Homo sapiens: one gene and its partners. The protein of the gene in region 1 purifies or fractionates together with the protein of each later gene. This does not show direct contact. Each region holds a gene or a part of one and is shown in the gene's direction. Other genes may lie near its edges.

What was found.
Region 2: the proteins of GCGR (region 1) and GPR89A purify together in Homo sapiens (affinity purification with mass spectrometry, with the first as the bait; one large-scale study listed by BioGRID). This does not show direct contact.
Region 3: the proteins of GCGR (region 1) and RNF170 purify together in Homo sapiens (affinity purification with mass spectrometry; one large-scale study listed by BioGRID and IntAct). This does not show direct contact.

Annotation. Positions count from the first base shown.
Region 1 is NC_000017.11:81,810,560-81,814,211, forward strand, and holds the end of GCGR (glucagon receptor precursor), read left to right. Parts: intron 1-265; coding exon 266-373; intron 374-450; coding exon 451-572; intron 573-662; coding exon 663-769; intron 770-844; coding exon 845-1,001; intron 1,002-1,091; coding exon 1,092-1,251; intron 1,252-1,326; coding exon 1,327-1,387; intron 1,388-1,623; coding exon 1,624-1,693; intron 1,694-2,017; coding exon 2,018-2,106; intron 2,107-2,247; coding exon 2,248-2,386; intron 2,387-2,456; coding exon 2,457-2,498; intron 2,499-2,914; coding exon 2,915-3,130; 3' UTR 3,131-3,449; downstream 3,450-3,652.
Region 2 is NC_000001.11:145,621,479-145,625,130, forward strand, and holds part of GPR89A (Golgi pH regulator A), read left to right. Parts: intron 1-1,575; coding exon 1,576-1,682; intron 1,683-2,114; exon of another isoform or gene 2,115-2,134; coding exon 2,135-2,236; intron 2,237-3,652. UniProt on the Homo sapiens protein: Voltage-gated channel that enables the transfer of anions such as iodide, chloride, bromide and fluoride which may function in counter-ion conductance and participates in Golgi acidification.
Region 3 is NC_000008.11:42,868,970-42,872,621, reverse strand, and holds part of RNF170 (E3 ubiquitin-protein ligase RNF170), read left to right. Parts: intron 1-2,509; coding exon 2,510-2,618; intron 2,619-3,652. UniProt on the Homo sapiens protein: E3 ubiquitin-protein ligase that plays an essential role in stimulus-induced inositol 1,4,5-trisphosphate receptor type 1 (ITPR1) ubiquitination and degradation via the endoplasmic reticulum-associated degradation (ERAD) pathway.

The DNA of each region.
Region 1 (3,652 bases):
GAAGGTGTCCTGCAGAGCTGCAATTCAGGGCTGGGCTGGGCGTGCTAGCGGAGGCTGGTCCAGGGGAGGTGGATGGTCAGGTGAGGAAGGTGGAGGTCAGATGGGGGAGGTGGAGGTCAAGTGGGGGAGGGAGCAGCCCAGGCCATGTCCTGGGCGAGGTGACGGCCGAGCTCAGGCTTCCAGAGAGAGGAGAGAGGCCTGCTGAGGGAGCCCCTTCTCCCACCCTGCCCTGCCCTGCTCTGCCCTGCCCTACCCTACCCTGCAGAGCTGGTGTGCAACAGAACCTTCGACAAGTATTCCTGCTGGCCGGACACCCCCGCCAATACCACGGCCAACATCTCCTGCCCCTGGTACCTGCCTTGGCACCACAAAGGTACCCATAGAGGGGAGGAACTGTGGGGGGGGCGGGCCCAGGGTGGGGCTGACCCCAGCCTCCCCCCACACCCCCAGTGCAACACCGCTTCGTGTTCAAGAGATGCGGGCCCGACGGTCAGTGGGTGCGTGGACCCCGGGGGCAGCCTTGGCGTGATGCCTCCCAGTGCCAGATGGATGGCGAGGAGATTGAGGTCCAGGTCAGTGGGCGGCAGGCAGGCGCGGTGGGGCTGGATGGGAACGGGCATGGGGGCCCCTGCCTGGCCCTCACAGGCCACTGTAACTCGCAGAAGGAGGTGGCCAAGATGTACAGCAGCTTCCAGGTGATGTACACAGTGGGCTACAGCCTGTCCCTGGGGGCCCTGCTCCTCGCCTTGGCCATCCTGGGGGGCCTCAGGTAGGATTCCGCCAGCGCCCGGGGCGGCCGCAGAGGACAGGGAGGAGGACGGGCGCTGACTGGCTGTGCCCACAGCAAGCTGCACTGCACCCGCAATGCCATCCACGCGAATCTGTTTGCGTCCTTCGTGCTGAAAGCCAGCTCCGTGCTGGTCATTGATGGGCTGCTCAGGACCCGCTACAGCCAGAAAATTGGCGACGACCTCAGTGTCAGCACCTGGCTCAGTGATGGAGTGAGCCCCCCTCGGCGGCCCCAGGCAGGTGGGTGGGTGGGCAGCCAGGCAGGTGGCCACGTAGCCGCGCTCACACTGCACCTGTACCAGGCGGTGGCTGGCTGCCGTGTGGCCGCGGTGTTCATGCAATATGGCATCGTGGCCAACTACTGCTGGCTGCTGGTGGAGGGCCTGTACCTGCACAACCTGCTGGGCCTGGCCACCCTCCCCGAGAGGAGCTTCTTCAGCCTCTACCTGGGCATCGGCTGGGGTGAGTGGGCTGGCATGAGAGGGGGTTAAGGCAGGCTGACCAAGCCTTTGGGACCACAGCTGCTGCCCCCCACAGGTGCCCCCATGCTGTTCGTCGTCCCCTGGGCAGTGGTCAAGTGTCTGTTCGAGAACGTCCAGTGAGTATGAGCGGCTGGACAGCCTGGGGAGGGACCGGGGGGCTGGGGTGCGGCGCTCTGGCCTGAGGCAGGGAGGGGCCGGGGATGAGCCTGGTGCCTGGGGAGGGGGTCATTTGTGACCTTCTCCCTTCCTTTTCTGAGACCCGAATTAGATCCTGGCAAAATCGGGACGGGGGTGCTGAGGGGCGGAGGGGCTGGGGGCTGTGCCCCAGTATGTGAGTGGCCTGGCCTCGCAGGTGCTGGACCAGCAATGACAACATGGGCTTCTGGTGGATCCTGCGGTTCCCCGTCTTCCTGGCCATCCTGGTGAGGAAATGAAGAGCCAGGAGCGCACCCCAGGCCCCTCCTCCCTTGGCGTCCTGAGGCTGCCCCAGGAGACAGCAGCATCCTGTCTGAGAGCGCTGGGAGGGAGCCGGCACCCAGACAGGACACCAGGACACTGGCCAGCACCCTGGACACTGAGCCAGGCTGTTCCTCCCTGGCTGTGTGCCCACCAGCCCCAGGGCTATGTGGCCCAGGGCCTATCTTGCTGCCAGGCCCACCTGCAGGAGGGTCAGGTGGGGCCTTCCAAGGGCACAGAGCTGTTCCCTGGGGCTCGGGATGCCCCTGACTCGCACCCTTCTCACACAGATCAACTTCTTCATCTTCGTCCGCATCGTTCAGCTGCTCGTGGCCAAGCTGCGGGCACGGCAGATGCACCACACAGACTACAAGTTCCGGTGGGTGCCGCGGCAGCTGGCGTCTCGAGACCTGGAGACCCTCAGGGCCAGAGGGCAGCTGGGGGTGGGGACTCCAAGCTCCACGTGGATGGTGCGGGCCGAGGGTGGGGGCGGTGGGTGACTCAGGCGCTGCCTCTGCAGGCTGGCCAAGTCCACGCTGACCCTCATCCCTCTGCTGGGCGTCCACGAAGTGGTCTTCGCCTTCGTGACGGACGAGCACGCCCAGGGCACCCTGCGCTCCGCCAAGCTCTTCTTCGACCTCTTCCTCAGCTCCTTCCAGGTGCCCGCCCGCCCGCCGGCTCCCCCGCCCGGGGCGCAGTGTGCCACCCCTGACCACCCTGTCTCTCCAGGGCCTGCTGGTGGCTGTCCTCTACTGCTTCCTCAACAAGGAGGTAGGTGGGAGTGGGGGCATCTGAGACCATCAGCACTGGCCGTCGGGGTCAGGGGCAGAGAGAGGCACAGGGATGCCAGCCCCACCCCTGCCCGGGGGTTGGAACACGTGGGGCCCAAGCCTTTCCCTCCCCCTGCTCTTATTGGGTGCAGTTGCCATGGCGCTGGGTGTCAGGCCCCCAGGACAGGTTGGCCTCAGCCCCATCGCTACGGTGTCCACCGTGGGGGTCCCCAGGTGTCTGCAGACTGCTTTCCGTGGCGATGCTGGGTGGCATAGCTGTGCCCAGCAGGGAGCTTGTGTCGCTCTGCACCCCTCAGAGCGGAGACTGGGCATCTCCGATGAGGCCCACAGCAGGTCCCGGTGGGGTGGAGAGGACAGGCAGGCCCTAGGACTGGCCTGCCCCGTCCCCCTCCCCAGGTGCAGTCGGAGCTGCGGCGGCGTTGGCACCGCTGGCGCCTGGGCAAAGTGCTATGGGAGGAGCGGAACACCAGCAACCACAGGGCCTCATCTTCGCCCGGCCACGGCCCTCCCAGCAAGGAGCTGCAGTTTGGGAGGGGTGGTGGCAGCCAGGATTCATCTGCGGAGACCCCCTTGGCTGGTGGCCTCCCTAGATTGGCTGAGAGCCCCTTCTGAACCCTGCTGGGACCCCAGCTAGGGCTGGACTCTGGCACCCAGAGGGCGTCGCTGGACAACCCAGAACTGGACGCCCAGCTGAGGCTGGGGGCGGGGGAGCCAACAGCAGCCCCCACCTACCCCCCACCCCCAGTGTGGCTGTCTGCGAGATTGGGCCTCCTCTCCCTGCACCTGCCTTGTCCCTGGTGCAGAGGTGAGCAGAGGAGTCCAGGGCGGGAGTGGGGGCTGTGCCGTGAACTGCGTGCCAGTGTCCCCACGTATGTCGGCACGTCCCATGTGCATGGAAATGTCCTCCAACAATAAAGAGCTCAAGTGGTCACCGTGCATGTCCTGGAAAGCAGGGCTGGAAATGCTGGGGCCGAAGCAGTGGGGGATGGAACAGCGGTGGGTGGTCAGCGCCAGTGCGGGCTGTTGAAGGGTCCCCCTGCTGTCCCAGTTCACTCAGAGTTGGCACTGGAACCCCGGAGGATCCCGAAGGCAGCCAGCCTGTGCCCATCTGAGCAGGTCCTGGCCACCTTCCCA
Region 2 (3,652 bases), on another chromosome or scaffold:
CTGTTACCATTGTTGTTCATATTTCCTTATAGTTCATTTCATCATCCTGTATTTTATTTATCTTTGTAAGCCATTTAACCACTTAGGCCTTTTTTGAAACAAGGCTTAAGTAAGTTTAAAATCAGTAAATACAAAGGACACCATCAAGAAAGTGAACCAACATTCCAAAAACAAGAGAAAATTTTTATAAATTACCTATCTGATAATGGACTGGGACTCGTATCTAGAATATATAAAGAATTCTTATAGTTTAATCATATAATACAATTAAAAAATGAATAAAGGATCTGAATAGGCATTTCTCCAGAGATGATATACAAATGGCCAGTAAGCACATATGAATAGATGCCCAATACCATTAGCCATCAAGGAAATGCAAATCAAAACCACAATGAGATACCACTTCACACCAACTAAAATGGCTATAACCAAAAAAAAAACAGAAAATAACAAGTGTTGGCGAGGCTGAGGAGAAACTGGAACTCTCATACACTCCTGAGGAAAATGTAAAATGATGCAGCCACATTGGGAAACAGTGGGAGTGCCTAAAAGATTAAATATAGATTTATCATATGACCCAACAATTCCACTCCATTTCTACCTAAAGAGAAATGAAAACATACGTCCACACCAGAATGTATACACACACATTCCTAGCGTCTCTATTTATAATAGCTAAAAACAACCCAAATGTCCTCAATTAATGAATGCAGAAACAAAATATAATATATCCATATAATGGGATGAATATTGTTCAACCATAAAAGGAATTATTGATAGATACTACAACATGGATGAACCTTGCAAACATTATGGTAAGTAAAAGAAGCCAGTCACAAAAGATTACATATTGGTGGTTTCCTAGAAACAGAAAGTATATTGGTGGTTTCCTAGAGCTGAGGAGATTGGGGAGAAACAGGGAGTGACTGCTAATGGGTACAGGGTTTCTTTATGGCGTAATGAAAATGTTCTAAAATTGATTTAGGTGATGGTTGCACAACTCTTGAGTATACAAAAACCATTGAATTGTACACTTTAAATGGGTAAATTATATCTCATTAAAACTGTTATAAAAAGTGCTAACAAAAAGTTTTAATAAATGAAGTACATCTTATAAACTAATAAAAGTAATTCATGCAAATCAGGTGTTTATATCAAGAGTACAAAAGAAATATTTTTGAGTATAACATATATTACTGTTAACATTTATTTTCCTTTAATTCTTACATTGGAATGAGATTCCTAGGGGTGGGTAAAACAATAGTCATTCTACCAGCAATGGCATATGTTGATACATGTTAATGGTATATGTTGCCTATGAATATATCAAAAACATAAACATTCTTATTTTAATATATGAAATTCTTAAGATGTTAAGATGGTCATATATACCTTTCAAAAATTTGTATTTTTTAATCTCTACAAATGAGTAGATTTTAAGAGCCTAGTAGGCTGATTAGATAGGATATATTCAATATTGAGTCCAAAGAGCAAAAGGACCCTTTGGAAGACTAAAGAGAAAGAAAGTTGCTGCCCTCTCTTCCTCCCAGTGACAGTCTTTGACATTTATTTCAGCTCCCGTTATTTTCACTGGAAAATGAACCTGTGTGTAATTCTGCTGATCCTGGTTTTCATGGTGCCTTTTTACATTGGCTATTTTATTGTGAGCAATATCCGACTACGTAAGTATTTTACCCTCTCAGTCAGCATATAGATTGAGATGAGTATTTGAGGGGACTTAAATTGTGGATAGCTTCATTTCTACATTAACTTTCAGTATCTACCGCTATTTGAGGATACCTCACACACAACATCTTAAAAATAAATATAAAATAAATATTGAATGAATTGGCACAAAATAAATATTGAATGAATGATTAGGTTATTTGTTCTGCCACAGCTTTATTTTTCTACCTATTAATAATGTCTCCTTTAGTTCATCCCACACCTTAAATTCAGCTAAATTTCTCTTACGATGGTAAGGATGCTTTCACTAAAAATTATGCTGTTCATCAGTCATTTGCCAAGTGAATTAGCAGCCAAATATTAGTTAGCATTATCTTATATTTTTAAATAGAGCAAGCTCTTTAACCTATATCTGTTTTTCCTAACAGTTTTGTCTCCTCTGTCTCAGTGCATAAACAACGACTGCTTTTTTCCTGTCTCTTATGGCTGACCTTTATGTATTTCTTCTGGAAACTAGGAGATCCCTTTCCCATTCTCAGCCCAAAACATGGTGAGTATATATAGGAGGGCAGAGGAAGTGGGGGGAGACGATTTGTTTAATTTTCTGATTTCAAAAACAATTAATTAAATTTCTTGGGGAAAAAATGTATTTGGGGAAATAATTTATTAATTCACAGGTTCTTGGGATTTGGAAAAAAATTTTTCTGATTGAGGAGGATAGCAAGCTATTTCTCTGAAAAATGTCTGATTTTGAACCACATTTTCTCCTTCATTCTAAGAGATAACTAATGCTGGTTTTGGACCTCACTTCTGTCATTCTAGAGTAGGAATTTTTGACCTTCATTTACTGAATATACTTAAAGGGTATAAGGAAAGAGAACGGTGTCTAACTCATATTGTATATGGAACTACAGGAATATATTTGTATGTGTATTTGGAGGTAAGGTATCAATAAACTTTTATCAGATTTGGGTAGCAGATTTGGGTCTGTGACCCAAAAGGTAAACGGCCACTGCTTAAGTGATGATAAAGATACATTAGGGAAGCATATGTATTTGAGGAAAGGTGACATAAAACACCCACAATTAGTAGATAAAGAAAAGCTTTCCAAGAATCGGTGTCTCCCCTCTAACAAAAAAAGTTTATTTTAAAACAAGAAATTTGGCAGAGCCCTAATTTTTAAGCTAAAAACAATGAACAAAAGTACCTCAGCTAACAAGTCCTTCCAGAACTATTTCAGAAGTATGTATGAATCTATCTAAAAAGATTAGAGAATCTATCTAAAAAGATTAGAGAGCCCATCTGTAATAAATATACTACAGGTTTCATGCTGGAACCTTTTTAAAAAAATCTATATATATATACCTCTTTATTCACCATCCTGCCGTACCTATTACTAGGCTTCTTATTGCAGAAAACAGAATCTACTGTAACTAATTTAAAGCAGAAAGTGATTAATTATACAGTATCAGGCAATTTATAGACTTTCTAGGAAAGTAGGGATGCAAAGCTTAACTGCTATATAGTGAAGAGAAATACCCAACTATGCCACAATACTAAACTAGAAAACCTCACTGAAGTTATCACCTGCCACTCAGGGTCTATGACATCAGGGACCTCAGTCCCAGCTGTTTGAGCTCCTAAGTGCTATCACCACCCCTACATTGTTCATTTCTGCATCTGAGGCCTCACATGGGCCGGGTTTTTTGGTGAAACCTAGGTAATATTTAAAACCTTGGCCTCAAGGAAGTCTGAGAAGGGGCTTTTGGCTTTCTAAACTCTGTAGTACCAAAACAAATGCTGGAAAAGGATATTGGAATTAATGTTGAATGAGCCAGTGTCTATTATAGAATCTGCCATACCTCCCACACACCCTTCCATGTATACTGATTGCCTATAGCAGGAATTTCGGGAGAGAGGTTATGAGACTCTCCTGCAGTAAGATCAGAGGAGATATGCAGTTTTG
Region 3 (3,652 bases), on another chromosome or scaffold:
AAAATACAAAAATTGGCCGGGCATGGTGGCGCACACCTGTTGTCCCAGCTACTTGGGAGGCTGAGGCAGGAGAATCACTTGAACCCGGGAGGCGGAGGTTGTAGTGAGCTGAGATTGCGCCACTGCACTCCAGCCTGGTGACAGAGAGTGAGACTCCGTCTAAAAAAGACAGAATAGTTTAAGCCTATTAGTAGTACTGTGTTCCATAACAATTGTTACCCATAATTCATGTTGAGATAGTGTTTTATAATTTACAAAGTGATTTCCCAAACAACAATTGTATTTAATCTTTAGACATAAGTAAGGCAACTACTATTATTCTCATTAACATATGAGACTGCTAAGATTTGCTAACACTCACACTAGCAATTTCATGACTGGGTTCAGCTATGGAGGGGCCCCAGATTGAGGAGAATCTTCCAGGTCTCCTTGCAGCAGTGTCCACTCAACTGCCTCACCTCTTCCTGAGGCCCAGCACACAGCTCTCAGAGTGAAAATAAGGCTGGCGATGTAGTCTGTTCTGTGCTGTCCAGTATGGCAGCTACCAGCCACCTGTGGCTATTCAAGTGAGTTAAAATTAAACACAATCTGAAATTAAGTCTTTTAGTCACACTGGCCACATTTCAAGTACACAATGGCCACATGTGGCTCCTGGCTACTGTATTGGATAGCACTGATAAAGATTTCAATTATTGCAGAAAGTTCTGTTGGACAGCACCGTTAATTGTTTTTTGTCAATTTCTTTAAAAATTAATAAGGAGAAGGCTGGGTGCAGTGGCTCACGCCTGTAATCCCAGCACTTTGGGAGGCTGAGGCGGGCAGATCACCTGAGGTCAGGAGCTCAAGACCACCCTGGGCAACATGGCGAAACCCCATCTCTACTAAAAACACAACTTTAGCCAGGTGCTTGTAATCCCAGCTACTCCAGAGGCTGAAGCAGGAGAATCACTTGAACCCAGGAGGCAGAGGTTTCAGTGAGCTGAGATTGTGCCACTGCACTCCAGCCTGGGTGACAGAGCGAGACTCTGTCTCAAAAAAAAAAAAAAGTAGAGAAGGGAACATAAAGTGCTGTACACTTTTTGTAGCATTAGAACTGACATAAGTGACTATAACATCAAGGTGTAGCCTTGGATCACAGAATATTCTGGTGATTTAGGACTGTTTTGGAAGTATGAAATTTTAGTTATATTTATTATTATTTAAATTTATTAAATTTGTTTATGAATATTGAGTGGCAAAAATCTGATTCACTTAAGAACAGTTCCTATTTAGTAAACTTAATACTTTTTTCTGTAATTAGATATTTTTCATGCTAGCAACTTTATCTGTGCTGGGTTCCATTAAAACAAGTTTTGATAAATAAGTTTTACAATACAATAACATAAAATATATGTTATGTAGACACTTTTTTTTTTTGAGACAGGGTCTCTGTTGCCCAGGCAGGAGTATAGCGGTGTGATCTCGGCTCATTGCAGTCTTTACCTCTTGAGTTCAAGTGATTCTCCCACCTCACCCTCCCGAGTAGCTGGGACTACAGGTGTGCGCCACCATGCCCAGCTAATTTTTGTATTTTGTGGTAGAGACAGGGTTTCACCATGTTGACCAGGCTGGTCTCGAACTCCTGACCTCAAGTGATCCACCCACCTCAGCCACCCAAAGTGCTGGGGTTACAGGTGTGAGCCACCGTGCCCGGCCATGTAGACACTTTTCTAGGTCCTGAGGTACAATGAGTCCTACAGATAAATCCCTTGCCCTCATGATCCATCCTAGTGAGGTCTTTGATATCTAGATGTTTCTTGCATATGTGCAACACTTTTAAAATGAAAAAGATGTTGAAAATGAAAAAAGTGAAGACTTAGAAAACAGTTTGACATTTGATATTTTTTTCTTTTTGAGACAGGGTCTCGCTCTGTCACCTAGGCTGGAGTGCAGTGGTGCAGTCACGGCTCACTCCAGCTTCAACCTCCCAGGCTCAGGTGACCTCCCACCTCAGTCTCCCAAGTAGCTGGGACTACAGGCGCATGCCACCACCACTCCTGGCTAATTTTTCTATTTTTTGTAGAGATGGGGTTTTGCCATGTTGCCCAGGCTCGTCTGGAACTCCTAGGCTCAAGTGATCCACTTGCCTCGGCCTCCCAAAGTGCTGGGATTACAGGCGTGAGTCACTGCACCTGACCTCGACATTTATTATTGTTAGCTTATGCACTAGCTCAGCCTTGTGTTACTCAGAATAATTTACTTATTCCAGTAGAGTAAAAGATGAACTCTTGAGTTAATCTAAGTTTTTGTCTTTAAATTGTGTTTAGGAAGGAAAGTGGAAACCATGCAGCTTAAATAAAAACAATATAGCCTCATAACATTCTTAAAATTATAACCTTAAACTATTGCACGTTTACAGTTTGATGAGGGTTACACACTGCTGACTCTGTTCTCAAATATAATTTAACATGAGATACTGTTGAGGGCCACATGTGTTGTGTTCCAATGTGTGCACCTGTGTTCTTATTAGGATGCACCTGCTGCCACTCGACAGCAGTTCTACACTGACATGTACTGTCCCATCTGCCTGCACCAAGCCTCCTTCCCGGTGGAGACCAACTGTGGACATCTTTTTTGTGGTAAGCAAACAACGCTATACTTGGGAAAAGTGACTGTGTAGACCAAGACCTCTATGTGTACAAAGGCTGGATTCCCAATTTTCTCTTTGTCACATTTTGTATTTTGTGAGTAGGGTAGATTACCTCTGATATCCTGCTCTACTTGTCAACCAAGTATACTTAGCATCTAAATAATATACTTACTTATTTATTTTCTATTTAGTGTGTCCATGTAGCAGCTATGGGTTCAGAGGTTAAAGAAACTATTCAGCTTCCCCATAAACAGAAATGTGTTTGTTTGGACAGTAGTTCAAGTAGATCCATAGCATGAGGGATTCACTGAGTCCCTCTTTGTTCATCACTTTTTGGGACTTTCATTTATTATTCATCCTTGCCAGGGCAGGAAGGTTCTTCTCTCAAGAACCTGCCCAAGACCCTGCCTTAGTCCTCCTGCCTCTTTTGACTCTGAGTTTGTACTAAAAGTCTTAAAGGTCTTAGTCTCAGTCTGTTTGTCTCTGTCTCTGTCTCTCTCAACCTCTTGAGGTTTAATGAAGGAGAATGAGAATCCTAGAGCATACCTTGGGGTAAGAAGGGAATAATTTCACACTTACTTAGTATCAGGAAGGAGTGCTTTCCACCACTTATTTTTCCTGAATCTGCAGATTCAGGAAAATCTTCTATGGCTTCTTACGCCATAGAAGATTGAGGGGCAAAGTATCAGTTATTACATGCCTATGTATTGGACATTAATGTACTTCATCTAACCCCACCTATGAGGAAACAGGCTTTAGAGATGTGAAGAAATTTTACAAAGAGGCCAGGCGCTGTGGCTCACGCCTGTAATCTCAGCACTTTGGGAGGCTAAGGCAGGAGGATTGCTTGAGCCCAGGAGTTGGAGGCCAGCCTGGGCAACATAAGGAGACCCTGTCTCCACAAAAAATAAGAAATTAGCCAGGCGCAATAGCTCACATGTGCAATCCCAGCTACTGGGGAGGCTGAGGAAGGAGAATCGCTTGAGCCCAGGAGCTTGAGCCTGCAATGAACTGTGATCATGC